Regions from separate parts of the Homo sapiens genome. Here region 1 is linked to region 2. The links come from fine-mapping of genetic effects on gene expression. A gene starts in region 2. The other region holds a variant in brackets. All regions are shown on one strand. Distances are between the middles of the regions.

Region 1 (8,476 bases), 120 kb after region 2:
TCTAAAAGTGTTCAGCGTTGCTGGACTGCCCCTTTCCTGTTCCTTTGGCTAGAGTGTGCAGGCTTTTTTTGTCTGTATTTGGTGTTTCTGGGCTGCCAGCATCTGGAGCTCCAAGTCTGGGATATATGAGACCAAAAAAAGCCCAGGAAGCTTAATGCCTTGTCATTCCTTGAGTCTTAAGGTCCCTGGCCCATCTTTTTAATTCTCTCCACCTTTCAGAGTTTTCTTGGGTCTGTTCTACATGTGTCCAGGGATTACAGTTGTAATTTGGTTGTAATCTATTTCACCTTTCCAAGGTGAAAAAAAAACCTTTAGTTTTTTTTTAAGTCTACATTATCACAGTTTTCTGTACTGTCACTATTCTGATTTCATTTTTTTCTTTTTCTTTTGTTTTTTGAAACAGAGCCTTGCTCTGTCATCCAGGCTGGAGTACAGTGGCGCGATCTCGGCTCACTGCAACTTCTGCCTCCTAGTTTCAAGCGATTCTCCTGCCTCAGCCTCCTAAGTAGCTGGGACCGCAGGAGCATGCCACCACGCCCGGCTAATTTTTGTATTTTTTGTAGACAATGGGTTTCACCATGTTGCTCAGGATGGTCTCAAACTTCTGGACTCAAATGATCTGCCCATCTTGGCCTCCCAAAGTGCTGGGATTACAGTGTGAGTCACCGTGCCCAGCCTGATTGCATTTTTGATCTTATTGCTGGTCTTGTAGGTTTAGGAAATGCTGTAGAGCTCAGCATATTGATATTAGCAAAGCATTTGACAAAATTCTTTTGTGAGCATATCTAGGCCAGTTAATAATAGAGCCATAGTCATTATTAACCAAACAGCTGCACCCAAAAAGTATTGATTAATAGATCAGCATCGGCCGGGCGCGGTGGCTCACGCCTGTAATCCCAGCACTTTGGGAGGCCGAGGCGGGTGGATCATGAGGTCAGGAGATCGAGACCATCCTGGCTAACAAGGTGAAACCCCGTCTCTACTAAAAATACAAAAAATTAGCCGGGCGCGGTGGCGGGCGCCTGTAGTCCCAGCTACTCGGGAGGCTGAGGCAGGAGAATGGCGTGAACCCGGGAAGCGGAGCTTGCAGTGAGCCGAGATTGCGCCACTGCAGTCCGCAGTCCGGCCTGGGCGACAGAGCGAGACTCCGTCTCAAAAAAAAAAAAAAAAATAGATCAGCATCAGGCTACAAGGGGGCCAACTTCAATATGCTGCAGGCACTGTCCTAGCCTGCCCTCTGCCCTGTTCAAAATTTCTTCAAACTGGTGAATGAACACCCAGGAAGTATTTGCATCTTAAGAACTGGGAGTGATAGTTAATATTTAGGATCACAAAATCGAGATTGAAGAAACTTCAATAAAATAGCATTGTGAAATAGAGCATTATGCATCCTGGATCAGAAAATAAATGATATAATACTGTACAAAGAGCAGAGCTGGTCTAATATTGTTTTTTATGGAGTAAGCACATGAGCAAACAAAAACCAGAAGGAAGTTAGTACTTATATAATTAGAAATTAAATAAGGAGAAAGGGAAACTAATATGAATTTAGCCTGTATTTTGGACCAAGTGCTGACATAGGCATTTTGTAGATGTTAAGGAGTCTAACACAATCCTAGACTATATTAACAGGATTGAGTGGCCAGAATAAAGGGTAGACTATTACATGGTCTGCTGAGATGTTCAAACAATATGTGGAATATTGTGCCCAACCAACTGGAGGTAAGTGTGGTGAAAGAGCACATGAAAGGTCATTGAAAAATGTTTAGTTTGATGAGGAGAAGTGTAGAAAACAGGAAACATGTAATGTGGAAAATGAATGCATCTTTCTGCCTAGCACCAAAAGTGTAAGGTAAGGTAATGAACTCCCTGTTAGTGTAAGTATGTAAACAGTGGCAAAATGACCAGCTATTAGGGGTGAAACACAGTGAACCTGCCTTAGGTGAGCACTGGACCAGATGATCTCTAAGGTTTCTTCCAAGAATCTCTGCACCTGTATAGAGCCAGTTAGAAAAAGAATGGCAACGTGTTAATGTCAGGGGGTTTAGCCTCACAAAACTAAGCACAGCTGATCTTGGCTTTAAGGAGATTCAGACATTAGTAAGAAAGAAAAGAGACTTTTTAAGACAAATTCCACTTTATTATCTAAGGAAACAGGAAATTCAGAGTTTTATAGGAGAGATGTATGCAAACAAAAACTAGATTAAGTTTCCAGAGGGGGCTGTTATTATTCAAACAAAAGAGCCCTTGTTTTTATTTATGGAGTTTAAAAGTAATAGGATACGGGCATTATGAAAGAGAGGCACCTGATTGTATGTTTTTTTTTTTTTTTTTTTAAACTTCCTTTAGGGAGACATTTCCAAATTTAATTGTGAATGAAAGTTAAAAACTCTCTTTGCTTTGTTTCAAAATGCTTTTCAAAAAGTGAGCGAGGTTGCCATCTAGTGACTATTTTCTGGTTTTCCATTTTAAAAGCTCTTTAATACGGGTTCTTATGGCAGTGTTGCTGAAACCTGGCTGTGTATTAGTGTCACCTGGAAGTTTCCTAAAATGCAGAATACTAGGACCCACCAAAGAATCGGAATCTTTGAGAATGAGCTCCAGGGTTGTGCTTTCTGATAAAGATCTTCAGATGACTCCACTGGACCTAGCCTGTCACCAGTGTTTGGAATTAACTGCCCTGGGGCATATTGTGTGCAGGTGGAAGTGTCACAGAGGCAAATTTATGTAAAGTGCAATATTCACTTACTTGCTCTAAGAACCTACTTGCTCAGGTATATGAAACTTGATGTTGCATCTTTGTATCTCATATTTAAAATAGACTTGGTAATGCTAAAAATTTACCCTACTGTTGTACACAAAGATACATGACCAGTGATGTTTATTGTAACACTGTTTGAATAGTGATTAGCTAAAAATCATTTAAATGCCTATCAATAGGGATGTGGCTAAAAAAATGACAGTAAATCAAAGCAGCAAATTTTATGCAGCCATTTAAAAAGAATGGTTAAGCATCATATACAATTTTTATTTGTCAATCATACCTCAGTAAAGCTGAAAAAACACAAGAGTTTATAATAGAGACAAACTGGGAAAATGCTAAATATTCTTCAATAGTAGACTGAACAAACTGTGGTAAATGTATATAATAAAATTTAAAAATGATTTAAAAATATTTGGTAATGTGATAAAAGAGCAAATTAAGATAGCAGAAAAGAACACTAAAAGAATATAATGTTTTCTTAGAATATATGTCAGTATATAGTTAGAAAAAGAACTGGGAGGAAAAATGTGATGAAAGTGTAATTTTTTTTTATATTTTCTTTTTTTGTAATTTTATATAATGGGTTTTTCATTTCTCTCATAATCAGAAAACTAAAAACATTATTTTGAGAGAGAAAGATATGTGAATTGATTCAAAGCTTACTGTCACATGCTTTTAGTAAGTGTTAGATGAACAGGCCAGAGTAAGCTGAAATGAGGAAGCCAAAAGACCAGGTTGGAGACTCGTTTCTCTTGGCTACCGGTAGGCTCAGATGCTGGGGGGCTTTCACACTTGTACGTCCCTTCTTTATTCATCTGGCCCTGATGAATAACATGATGGTGCAACTGAGGGGCTCTTCCCTGGAAGGGCCTTTCATCAACCCGGATCTCTGTGGAAGACAGAGCACCAACACTGAACCAAGACAGAGGCAGATTTTGTAGAACACTAGAAATTTATGGATCACTGCTTTAAAATTCTACTAACTAAAGATTCTATTAATAGGGAATGCTCTTCTAGAACTCACACTTTTTTTTTTTTTTATTATACTTTAAGTTTTAGGGTACATGTGCACATTGTGCAGGTTAGTTACATATGTATACATGTGCCATGCTGGTGCGCTGCACCCACTAACTCGTCATCTAGCATTAGGTATATCTCCCAATGCTATCCCTCTCCCCTCCCCCCACCCCACCACAGTCCCCAGAGTGTGATGTTCCCCTTCCTGTGTCCATGTGATCTCATTGTAGAACTCACACTTTTGCGCAACATAAGGCAGCAAGCTTAGTCTCGAATCAGCATACTGTGACTTTTGCGCCCTTGTACTTTCAACTTTTGCTCCTTCTGTTCCTACTTTGTTTCCTTGTCACACTTTCTGTTCTGTCTTTTACAGAGACACATAAACTTTGAATGGTTGTGATCATATCCTGTTAGGATGACCGGTTTGTACGTGACCGATGGCACACTACGGCTCTACAATCACCAGATTATTTTCCACAGAGTAGTGAGTTGGGGAA[G/A]TCACGTATATGCACTGTGAATAGTTTCTGTTTTGCAAGAGCCTGTGTAAAGGTCCATTTTTAAATGCTGTCCTGTACATTCACTTGATTAATTAATTAATATTTATTTATTTATTTGAGACAAAGTCTCACTCTGTCACCCAGGCTGGAGTGCAGTGGCACGATCTTGGCTCACTGCAGCCTCCACCTCCCAGGTTCAAGCAATTCTTGTGCCTCAGCCTCCTAAGTAGCTGGCATTATAGGCCTGTGCCACTAGGCCTGACTAATTTTTGTATTTTTCATAGGGATGGGGTTTCACTGTGTTGCCTAGGCTTGTCTCGAACTTCTGACCTCAGGTGATCTGCCCCACCTTGGCCTCCTAAAGTGCTGGGATTACAGGCTTGTGCCACCAGTCCCAGCCTTGTACGTTCACTTTAAATGATATTTTTATTATTTGTTGATATAAGATAATCCACAAAGACAAGCTATTTTTCATCATAAACTGAAACATTCCTGCAATGGTAGGTTAATACAGGGGAAGTTCTGGACTAGCTATAGATTTGTGGGAGACCCAGGTGACTGATTTGAAGGTCACTGGGAAAGACATCCATATTAGTGATTTCAAACTTTGACTTGCATTAAAATCATTTGAGGGACCTGTTAAAAAAGGAAATCCCTGGACCCCGTTCATGGCCTTATATCACAAATATTACTCCATTCACTTATTAATGCAATGTGTCTAAGATCTGCCCCAGCTGGCCTGCTCAGAATTACCTCTTTGCTAAATAGACAACTTTCTTTCTTCACATAGTATTATGTTGGTGCAAAAGTGATGACTGTTTTTGCCATTAAAAGTAATGGCAATTACTTTTGAGCCAACCTAATACTTCTATCTTCCTGATGCTGTTTTAAGTAAAAATTATTTAAGATTGTTTGACTTCTATTATTAATCTGTTAACCTAACAATTATAAAAATCTACTTAAAATTCAAATCTAGCAAGAGTCACTTCTAAACAGGGAGTGTCTGTGTTACACTAAACCATATGCCTACAAATTGATAAAGTATTATTCGTTTAATGAAACAGATCCTCTTGTTCTTATTCTCGAAAGTCTAAACCATAGCTTCAGGTAGATTTTCTTGCAGCTTTTGCGTGAGTCCACTCATTGTTTTTGACATTATTCTCATTTGGATTTCTGGATTTGGATTGTATCGGTGTTTTGTTCTCTTTTCTTTCCAGACTTCCTCATTAAATTTTTTCTAACCATTTATCTGCCCCTTTCTCTTTCAGCCCCCAATTCCTATCTTCCTGACATGCATTCAGACTCATCTATTTCTTCTCCTTTTCCTTTGGGCCGTCTAATACCATATTTTAATGCCTGTGACTGTAAGTATCATTCTCTTGAATAGCAGAGTTTACCTTCTCATACAGAAGTTGTTTTTGAAAGGGACTTCTGTAAAAGCATCATAATGTCTTTGAAACTTACGCTGTCTTGAGCTCCTGCTTAGTTAAAGGCAGGCCCTAAAGACAGAGTGAGGAGATAACACAATGTTTATTCTAGACCGCAGAGAAAGTCTGTTGAGCAACTTCCTCCTGGCTGGTCTTCTTCCTTCCAACTCCCCTGAACCCTACCTTGCTTACCACTCCTTCCCCATCCACTGGTTGGGGAGAGCTATCTTAAGCTCTAAACTACACATGGGATCACTTAAGGTCGCCACTGTGAAGCTCTTATGTACTAGTGAGGCTTATTGTCTGCAGCCTCTCTACATGTGTAATACGTTGGGTAAAATAGATTTTACTATCTCCTGGCTCTTCCCTTCAGCTAGAGTTCATCTTCTCAGAACTCCTGTCTCACTTTACTTATATTTCTATTATTTAACACATTCTGCCTTGTATCTTTCGTATGACTTTCTCCCTACTTACTTATAGTTTTGATAAAGACCAAGAGCATCTCTTCTTTTGATCTCCAAAGAATTTTGTAAAAGATGGTCGTTCAATAAATACTTTTCAACTGAGCTAAATGTTATTTCAGACAAGGTCAGATATGTTACCCTGACTGGTAGACGCGCCAAGAACAGATTAATTAGTATTGTAAAATCAAGGTAAATATTTACAAGCAGAGAAGTCCAGGAAGGTGAGGTTTGAGGGAGTACCAGGGCTGCACGTAAATAACAGAACCGGAGCCTGCTCGCAGACTGGTACAGTGACCTTTTCTTTTTGAGCACAAGGTGGCAGGCTAGGTCAATTTCCATCGTCTCTTATAAGGCAGCTACGTGAGGCTGAAGTTTTTTGCCCAATTTCAGAAACAGATATCTATTTTTTTTTTAACTGAGATTAGCGCAGCCTGATGGCTAAAACATGGTTTTGGATAAGGCATGGGCCTCACTCTTGACTACTGACTGTCCTTGTGGATCTCTGGTCCTTTGTGTTTGGACTAATTCCTCCACGTCTGCATCAAATAGCAATGCATTGTGGATGCCAACACACTTCTAGTTTCTGTTAACTGGATGAAAAAAATATGAACATTGTCAGTGTTTTGAAGAAATATCCATGAACACTGAAGCTTAGAGAGAGGAAACAAAATCGGACCAGAGAATTGAAATACGCAGTTTCTCCACTAGATAGCAGACTACGACAGGTGACTTTTGGAAGGGTCCATCTGTATTTACCCAAAGAAAGCATCCGTTTTTCTCCATCAGTTCATATTTTTCTTTTACCACGACAAGTGTTTTTATGTGATCAGACCATTCGCATGTAAAGCTCTGATATAAACCTGAAATATAAGTAGCAGTTTGATTTCAATTTATTAATCTGCAATTTAAATTCTGATAGAGTTTTTTTTTTACTTCATTAATTGCCTCCAGTTTTTTTTCCCCCAAATTGTCTTTTATTTTTTAAAAAGCAAATTACTAGGAATAGTTTATTCTGGAATTCTGATGGTAACATTGGGTGATATGTTCAGTCTTTCCCTTGATTCTGACCTGTTATTTCCAGAAGATAGGGAACAAATGAGGGAAAAAAAGATTCCTTGTTTTTAGATTCTACTTTGTATTCTTTCAAGTTTCTCTCTCTCTCTCTGTGTGTGTGCACTCATGAACACACATATACTCACACATATTCATATTATGTGGATGAATATACACACGATCTATGTACACGTGTGTATACATATATGTCTATATATACACACAGTCATATATGTATGTGTATATTATGTACATTTATCTTTGCAATATATGGCAGTTTAGTGATTGTTTAAGAGTAAAGACTCTGGAACCAGACTCCTTGGGTATAAATCCTAGCTAACTAGCAAATACTTACAGATCTGTGTCTGTTTCTTCATCTGTAAAATGGGGGTAATAATGGTACCCGTATTATAGAGTAGCTGTATAGATAAAAGGACTTCACAGAGCATGGCTCATGGTAACTAAGCAAATCATGTTAGCCATTACTATTTGTGTATGTTGAGAGTCTGATTTATTCAATAGCTTATATTGCCACTTTCATTTAGTAAATGAAGCACCCTCTATCTACCCAATGTGGGAGTTTAGATTTTTTGAAGGTGCCATAACATATTGACATTGACTTGACTTTGCTACATACATTATTCAACTTAATAATCTAGGTGCTGTCCGGAATGTCTCAGTCATGATTTCTGTTGTTTGGGAACTTACGTGTTAAAGAGAAAATGTGTGCACTTTTCTTTCTCTATTCTCTACCTCTTTCTTTTCTTCTCTTGACCTTCCTCATTTGGAGGAATGTCAAGAATGGAGAGGTATATCAATTACAAATTCAATTCACCTACCAATAACAGCAGCAACAAAAATTCCAAATAGTCGCTTAAAAAGAGCATTCTTTTTCTCATAGGACAAAGATTCTGGAGGCAGGAAGCTGATGATGGAGCTGGTTCAGTGGCTCCTCTAGGATTATTTTGTCCTTTCCTTCATAGCCACAACATGACTGCTCCTCCAGGCATCAGGTTCATGTCAAGCCAAGAAAAGGGCAAGAAAGGAGAAAGGGTGGTATACCGGCTATATAAATTCTTCTTATCAGGAGGGGCAAAAACTTTCCAGAGCTCTTCCCCCTTCCCTAACCGAGACTTAGGGCTAGTTTCCAGAACAGTGTCACAAAGCCAAAAAACCTCTACACTGAAAGACAAGAGAAAGAAATATTCTGGAAATGACTTGGGATCAGCCAGTGAATGATATTTCTCAAATTAA
Region 2 (8,450 bases):
AAATACTGATAATATGCTACTGCAAAGGAGTGGAAATTGCTCTGAGTAAGTATCATCTGATCTGCTGAATCATCCAGGGCCAATCATTACATTTCCCTGTCACTGAGAATGAGAACTCTGGGGGTTGCACAGAGTTCCTTCTGCAGCCACCTAAGGGGTGGATGAGTAGAGAGAGAACCAGTCAGAAGTACTTGGAGTTTCTCTCATGGCTGGCTCTAACCAGAGGAGCTTAGTATTGGGCTTCTCCGAAAGGTTTTGCTGAAAGAAGGGGTTCCTTGCTTTAAGAAGATGAAAAAACAGCCGGGCGCAGTGGCTCACGCCTGTAATCCCAGCACTTTGGGAGGCCAAGGAGGGTGGATCACGAGGTCAGGAGATGGAGACCATCCTGGCTAACACGGTGAAACCCCGTCTCTACTAAAAATACAAAAAATTATCCGGGCGTGGTGGCGGGCGCCTGTAGTCCCAGCTACTCAGGAGAATGGGGTGAACCTGGGAGGCGGAGCTTGCAGTGAGCCGAGATCACACCACTGCACTCCAGCCTGGGCGACGGAGCGAGACTCCGTCTCAAAAAAAAAAAAAAAAAAAAAAAAAGAAGGCGGAAAAACAGTGAGACCAGATGAGTTCAGAGTTTTTCTCTTCACTTTTTCATATCTATCTATCTATTCTCATGACACATGTAATACAGGCTCAGAGAGAATGGATGTATAAGTTACATTTATAATTTTTAAAAACTAATATGAAGAAAATAAAGGTAAGCAAAATGAATAGACTAAAAACCACCCAGTAATCCTAACACTCACAGATAACCAGTGTGTATTTTCAGGCATATATCCTTAGAGACTTCCCCAATTTTTTACTAGCTTTAAGTTTCTGGGATTCTAGAAGGCTGAGCCTTGAGCTCTTCACGTATTTCTTAAATTGTTATAGCTCCACGTGCCTTCTAAAATGCATCTTTGCCATATTTTCGTTTATTAAAAAGACGCTAATTCTTGCCTCAAATAGTATGACCTCTATCTTCTCTGGAGATGTTAATTTTTCTGGTTTATTATTAGGATTCAACACCTGTATTTTCAAATCAGTTGAAAAACAGACACACACACCCCTCCACACACAAACGAACACAGAATACTTCTTTTAATGTCTTCATTAAGCAGTCTAATTGCAGTGACCCCCAAGGCAGCTCTATTTTGGCCTTTATTCTGTTCAACTGGAATTGAACTCTGTGTGCCTTTTTGTCCAAGCTTCTGGGGACAATGCCCATTTGTTGTTTGGCTGGCACAGTTTCATCTGTTGTGGAGGGGTAGGTACATCTTTAGTGCTGGTCAAATAATTATAATAAAGAGTTTGGTTGGTCTTATGTTTGGTTAGAAAATGTGATCTAACATCAGCTGACAATCACAATAGATACAAACAGCACACATAGACTTTCTTTTCACAATGGGCTTCTCAGCTAATATCTCAGACAATATTGTGAATATTATGGTCATACAAACAGTTCTGACTAATATCCAATGTGAATTTTAAACTTAGCAATCCACTAAACAAAGCAAAAGCTGGAATTTTCTGCTTTTAGATCAGTATGTGGACTAATGGAAAAAAAGTCACACAACTTCATATAACTTATCTTACATGCGATAACTCATCATACATGCCTAGATATTATTATATTTAAAATATCTGGGTTGGTTTTATAAACTTATATTTATTAAAAACTATACTGTGCTTGGTACTGGCCTAGATTCATAGCAGGCAGTCAATCAATACTTGTAAACCAATGGATTTGACTGAGAAGATAAGTAATATCGCAGCAAATACGTTTCTTGCACCTCTCGCCATAATTGAGTAAATGATTTAACTATATAAAAACATAAAAGATGCTTACCTGCTTTTCCTCAGAACTTCCAGAATCAGCCTGTTTAACCTTAGAAACAGAAAAGATGAAGAAAGATTACAAGAATGTCCTCCTAGCACATGGAAGCACACAATTCAGTTATTTTCAGGAATTTTCTTTAAGATGCAACTGTACTCACTGGTATGGCACAGGTGATGCCTAGGAGGCAAAAGCAAATCACTGCAATTCTCATGGTAGTGAGTTTTCCTGCAAAATATTTCATAAGGAATAGCTGACATCTTCATAGGTTACAACAGTGATACCTTTTTATACTACCACATTACAAAATGATCACAAATAAAATATATTTTCTATAGAATCTTTTCTACTTCTTAGAGATGCCTTTTCTTTTTAGTATTATAGTCTTTCAAGTTAATATTTATATTGCCACCTATTATCCATCTTTCACTATTAGGCAAGGGAAAGGGAAATTTTGCAAGTCTGTATTTATTCAACTTTAAAATTTAGAGTTCCAGAAATTATACCATTACTACCTTATATATCTAGCTCTCTAAACCTACAAACAGATCAACAGTAACTTAATTATATTAATAAGCTAGTATGGGAATATTTTTTAGAGAAGAAAAAACTCACAGAAAAAAATGAAAAAAATTTGCTTTATCCATTTTTCCAACATGTACTTTAAATGTGACTTTTAGCTTAATTATCAAGTAGGTGCTACTTAGGTGAAATCAAACTATCTCTGAAATTTGTTATTTAAGTAAGATGTTCTAAAAATTTGAAATTCAAAGGAAAACATTGAAAATAGCCAACAGCTTTTCTATTTGTAATAATAAGCCTACACAGTGTCATACAGGTATCTTGGTGAATATTTTAACAGCTAAATTTAGCAGTGGCATATTCAGAAAGGGTTTTCTTCCCCTTAAAAGTGAGATACATCATTTAAAAAATAGCATTGTAATTGGTTTAATTAGCATAAAAGATCCCTTTTCTTTTAAATTCCTGCACAGTCACCCACTGAAAATTATATAGGTATAATTATTCCAAAGGGGAATTTAATTTTACTATTTTCTGATTAGCATCGGTGGTTTCCGTTCTTTTGAGGACCCAGTGGAAGTATTTTTAAGTTTTAAATTTGATTGGCATTCAAAATATCTAGACACCTTTGTTCCAGGAGACCTGCAATGTATCTAATCTGCTTATTAAAAAGGCTAGAAAATTTAAGTCTGTTTAACAGCATTACAATTAAAAATATTTTTCCTTAGAATTTGGACTTCCCCATGAAATTCAGCTGAATGCACAACCCAGTAGCAAACTGAAGCTGTACCTTGGTCGGCGTTTGGCTGAGAAGGCTGCAACTGGCCTGAGACGAGTCTGGTCCCGACGATGCTGTGCTCTGCCTCCTCCTGCTGCTGCTGACAACCAAGCCCTCCCAGAATTTAAATGCTGCTGCAGACATCCTCCACCAACACAGGGAGGCGGAGAGATTGTGTCATGAGGTTTTCTGCCACTGCCCAGCCCACCTGCTCCCACACTTCCCCCTCTGGTTTTGTGGTTAAAACAAAAAAAAACAAAAACGCACACACACAATCTACAGTTAAAACATTACTTATGTACAATATCATTAACTAGCTTTTTCATTTACGGGATGGGCATTCAGCATCCAGGAAGAGCACTTAGGGATCCCATGAAAAAGGGAGAAAGTAGGGAAAAACATTAATGTAAAATTAAATAGAATGGATTTTTGTTTCTTTCGGTTTAAGTAACATAAAGGTAATATCTGCAACCACTCTTGCCTGTATGATTGTACTTATTGAAGAGCCAGAAGGCTATTGTTCAAGCCTGCAAGGAGTTCAGAAAACTTGCCTCTGTCCTTTACTACTCAAGCTTAGCTTTGTGATTTCGAGTATGCAGTAGCTTGTTACTTAGACAAATGGCACTAGTGACATTAAAATATAAAATTCTATATGAAATAGAAGAATGGTAATTTATTCTAGATGTTGCAGAAGTAAAGCAGTTTCTGACTGAGAGCAGGATGACTGCTTGAGAGGGCTGCTTCAGGAGCCAGACCGTGGTTCTGAATTCCGCTGTGTCACTGCTGACCTGTGCAACCTTGGGCAAATCGCCCAGCCTACCTATCCTTGTTCCCTCATCCATGAAATGCAATACTATTACCTAGGTCATGGGGTTTTTGAGGGGTTTAAATGAATTAGTATGTTAAACTAGCAATGCTTAGCACATATTAGATGCAAATGCTCTGCGTATCTTAAGGACTATATGTGTGTTAACTATTATGAAATTTTTAAGAGGGGCAGGCAGTCACGAATTGTAATGTCCTTTAAAAGAACAGGTTATTAAAATGAGAGTAGACGTAAGATCTTTAAATTGTATGCATCAATAAGGAAATTTTGCACATTTCTAAAGGAACAGATTCGATTTTGGAATCATCTTTTTTTCTAGTTTTTCTCCCAAGGTATGTAAAGTAGGCCACTTAAAAAGAAAAACATTTTTAAAAATTTCTGTATTAAAAAACACTTTACTAGGTATTTAAAAGGTGTCTGAATGAAAGAAAATTACAGGGAAAGTCCGAATATTAGAGCAGAATTCAGGGATAGCAGAGCTCTGGGTCCTTTTAAAATATTTAATATTGCCTTGAGATTACTTATCTTCATTTGCTTTCTCAGTTGTGAAATGCAGATTGCACTATTTATTTACCTTACACCTTTATTGTTAAGACTTGTGTGTAATTGAGATGAAAAATAAATGGTCCTATTTATTATTAGGTTGCTGCAAAAGTAATTGTGGTTTTTATTAGTCCTAAAGTGTCAGCTTCCTTTTGCCAAATATTACTTTTAATATAAATATAGATTAAATAATGTCTTGCAGTGATAGTGTATAGCTAATTCATAGGTTTCATGAACATTTGGTAGGGGGAAATATGTCTCCCTTAAATTGGATGTATTCCAGATGAATTGATATGATTGGTTTGTAGGTAATAAGCACCCATTTTAATAAGTAAGATGACGACTATCTCTATAAAATAGAAAGCACACAGATTATAAAGTTGCAAAATAGACTTCTTTTTTCTGCTTCTAAAAACTATTTTTTTCCTTTAAACATACCCGCATAAGCGTGTCATGTTGTCAATTTAGTGGAGGGAAGTCTGAAAATTCTAAAAACAACAAAATTTCCACAGGATTTACTGTAGTTTACTCTGTGCCCACGGGAATGATTCAATATGAAGCTAGAATTAATTATAGGAATAGATTATGCTGGAGCCCAGCCATCTTGAGATGAACCATACGACCCTTTACAGGACTCTTCTGGTCATAGCTCCGCAGTGCCACACGATGGCAGCATTTCTGAAAAAAGATTTCAGACCACAATCTGGTTCTACCAATTTTCTTAATTCCAGCGGGATAGAACACTCCTGTATTTAATGACAGGACTATATACAGCTGTGGAGCTCTCCATTTCTTGGAATGCCAGGTGAGGAAATATTTCCCAACAATGACCCGCTATGCAATCAGGGACAGAGACCCAGAGAACCAAAGCGTTCTTGTTTTGCTCTGTTGTTGCCTTAGGCAATCCCAAGTTGACACTATTGTCTCCTTCCCGACTTCTACACTCATTCAAAAAGTTCCTAGTCCCAAGGCCTCTCTCAGAGAAAAGGCTTGTGAATTCACGGGTAAAGAATGTGTCTGGGATGCTTTGGAGTTGAGAAGATAAAGTGATTTATAATGGGAGGCAATTCTGTAAAGTAGGAAATGGATGCTGCGTCATTCTGACTATCGGGGAGGTCATGTTTTGGGATGTTTCTTGCTGTTTGCACTCAAACATGCTGCTGCTGGTTGTTTTTTCTGAGTAGGATTTTCTGTCAGAATTAACATGTTAAATGATTTAAATCACAGTGGCTCTATCTGTAATATTTCCAAAGTTTCCATTCTTGATTGGCTAATGATTGGTTGTTAGAATCAAAAGGTCAAAATGCACAAATTCCCTATAAATCTTGTGAGTGGAAAGTAAAAAAAGTTTAGTTGTCAAACTAGAATGCAAAGAGTAATTTGTGATCTTAAATTATACACACTAAGAGGACACATGGAAACAAATAAAGAGCCTTAAGGTCTTTTTCCTGAATTACATGAAAATTCCCATATAATAAAAAGTAAGTGTTCAATGTCACTACTTTGGTGGACAACTTTATTAAACTCACTTCCAGTTTATTTGAACATTTCTAATTATATTTTACTTAGTAAAGTGTAACCAACTATTTCAGTGTTTTCAGCTCCACAGGTAATTATTTTTTTCCCTTGAGTCAAGGTTCAGACATGACTCTGATATTTTGGTAACACCACTAATCTGTCATAAAGAAGTTTGGAATTAAAGCTAATCGGAAGCCTAGCACCATTCATCATATATAGACTGGGAAAAGGGGCATTATTTATCACAGGGTAGCAAGCAAAGGTGGATGATAAGAGGGTGCTATTTTCAAGTTCAGACATGAAATTAGAGCATTTCAGAAATACAAAAAAAAAAAAACAAAAACACCATAAACTCTTTTATTCCATTGCTCAATAGCTTAGACAACAAAAGTCAGCTCCTGACAAAGTGGTCGTACCATTGGTAAACATTAGTTTCAATTTAAAACAAATAAAAAAAAGTTTTCCTTTAGACACATAGAACTGTTATGGAGTAAGTGCTCAATAAATTGTTGGTGATTGCCCACTCAGCCCTGCATCTATGACACGAATTCTGACCTTATAGTTTTTGCTTATGAATACAATGCATAGGCACTATGCTTGAATTCAGAGTATATCTCATATATTGATATCTAATATCTGCCTGTACTCAAGAATCTAGCATTTATTTCTTCATTAAAGTAGTATTAGTAACTCTGAGGACATTCTAATGCTCTTTAAATGATAGACTTTTTTAAGGTAGACTTAAATTACTAACTTTTTTTTCTTAAATGACACCATTCTTACCCTCATGGAGCCCATTTGTTCATGAAAATCAACTAGGAAATTTGAAACTTGAGTAACCAATGAGATTAAGGGGGTGTGGCTAAACAGTAAACTTGGCAGCACCCTGGGTAGAGAAGGTATATGGTAGAGACCCTGTGTCCACATTGGAGTTGAAGGGATGGGTATTCTGGGATTGGATCCAAACAGAAAGTCCCCCTTCCCACTCAACATCAACCACAGCAGCATAAACTCGAGACCTATAACAACCTGGGGAACAATAGAGGAGGCTGTAATCAGAGAGGATCCAAAGAGGGAGATAGAACAAGGTGGAAAAGCACAAATAGAAAGTCTAGCAGCTGCAGGAGGACCTTGTTTGTTCAGAAAAAGACATTTTGTGGCAATAAGCGGTCAGTGACAGTCATTTTGCAGATATATTTGAGGGGAGAAAATCATTCTCCGAAATTGGTTTATGAGAATTCTTGCTTAAAATCTGATGTTTGAGTAATTTTTGGTAGAGAATCTATCATAAGGTTGATATGAAAAGGTGACAATTTCAGTGCAAAAGAGAAAACAAAATCAAAAGAAAGGGGAGTAAAACTAGACAACAAAAGCAGCTCAGTCAGATATTTTTCTGGTTACACTTGGCTAAGGTTTTTTGTTTCGACAATTCTTGTCAAGGCATAGTTTACATTAATGCCCCTATCCCATAGCATAACATTTATGTTTCTTAAACCTGTAATTTAAAATATTCTATATTAAAATTTGATTTCTTCTTTAATGTTTGAATTCCTCATAGAGTGTAAGTTCCATGATATGCTAATCCCTCTGCAGATTATGTGCCAAAAATATTTATTCAGTGAAGAAATTTAGCTCAATTATGACATGTATATAGTTCTTACATAAATTGAGTTATTCTTGCTGATTATTTTCTGTTGCCTTCATAAAGCCCCAGATTAAACATATTTATTTATTTTTGAGACAGTGTCTCACTCTGTCACCCAGGCTGAAGTGCAGTGGCACGATCTCGGCTCACTGCAACCTCTGCCTCCTGGGTTCAAGCGATTCTTGTGCCTCAGCCTTCCAAGTAGCTGGGATTACAGGCATGCACCACCATGCCCAGCTAATTTTTTTTTTTTTTTTTTTTTAGTAGAGATGAAATTTTATCATGTTGGCCAGGGTGGTCTCAAACTCCTGGCCTTGAGTGATTGGCCCACCTCAGCCTCCCAAAGTGCTGGGATTACAGGCATCAACCACCGCTCCCGGCCTCCTGAATTAAACGTCTTCAGATTCCAATATAGATAGTGTTCCGCTTGAGTGAATTACACCTGAGAACTTCAGGCATGCTTCCTGTGCCTAAAAAGGACTGCCCAGGTGATTGCTATTTCTTACATAACATGAGGTCCTCTGGGGTCTGGCATTCTTCTGTCTCTCCAGCCTTATTTCTGCCCAACTTCTCTCCTTGTACTCCCTAAAACAATCATGCAGAGCCATGTGGGTTCCCCAGTGTGTCATTCTATTTCAGGTCTCCATGCCTTTACTCACATTGCATGGTCCTTATATCTAGAATATCCCTCCAGTCTCATCCGCACCTGTCTCTGAAATATTTGCACATCATGCATCAAAGCATCCCCTAT

The links. PIP is the estimated chance that this variant, and not a neighbour inherited with it, causes the effect.
Region 1: its variant is fine-mapped to the expression of SPP1 in whole blood (TOPMed, PIP above 0.99).

The regions. Positions count from the first base shown.
Region 1 is chr4:87,847,191-87,855,666 of GRCh38, reverse strand. No RefSeq gene overlaps it. Among named protein-coding and RNA genes, the nearest start is that of MEPE, 18 kb to the right of the region's middle. The variant G/A (reference allele first, on the strand shown) is at 4,279.
Region 2 is chr4:87,970,530-87,978,979 of GRCh38, reverse strand. SPP1 (secreted phosphoprotein 1) reads right to left here and starts at 3,266. Exons shown (of 7, transcript NM_001040058.2): 1 at 3,180-3,266; 2 at 2,031-2,098; 3 at 1,883-1,921. The coding sequence starts at 2,084. LOC124900730 (a long non-coding RNA gene) reads left to right here and starts at 5,211. Exons shown (of 2, transcript XR_007058172.1): 1 at 5,211-5,341. RefSeq lists cis regulatory regions at 3,271-3,280, 3,315-3,324, 3,499-3,514, 3,952-3,960, 4,027-4,035 and 1 more, enhancers at 3,293-3,363, 3,126-3,625, 3,988-4,008 and promoters at 3,180-3,393, 3,183-4,270, 3,270-5,512.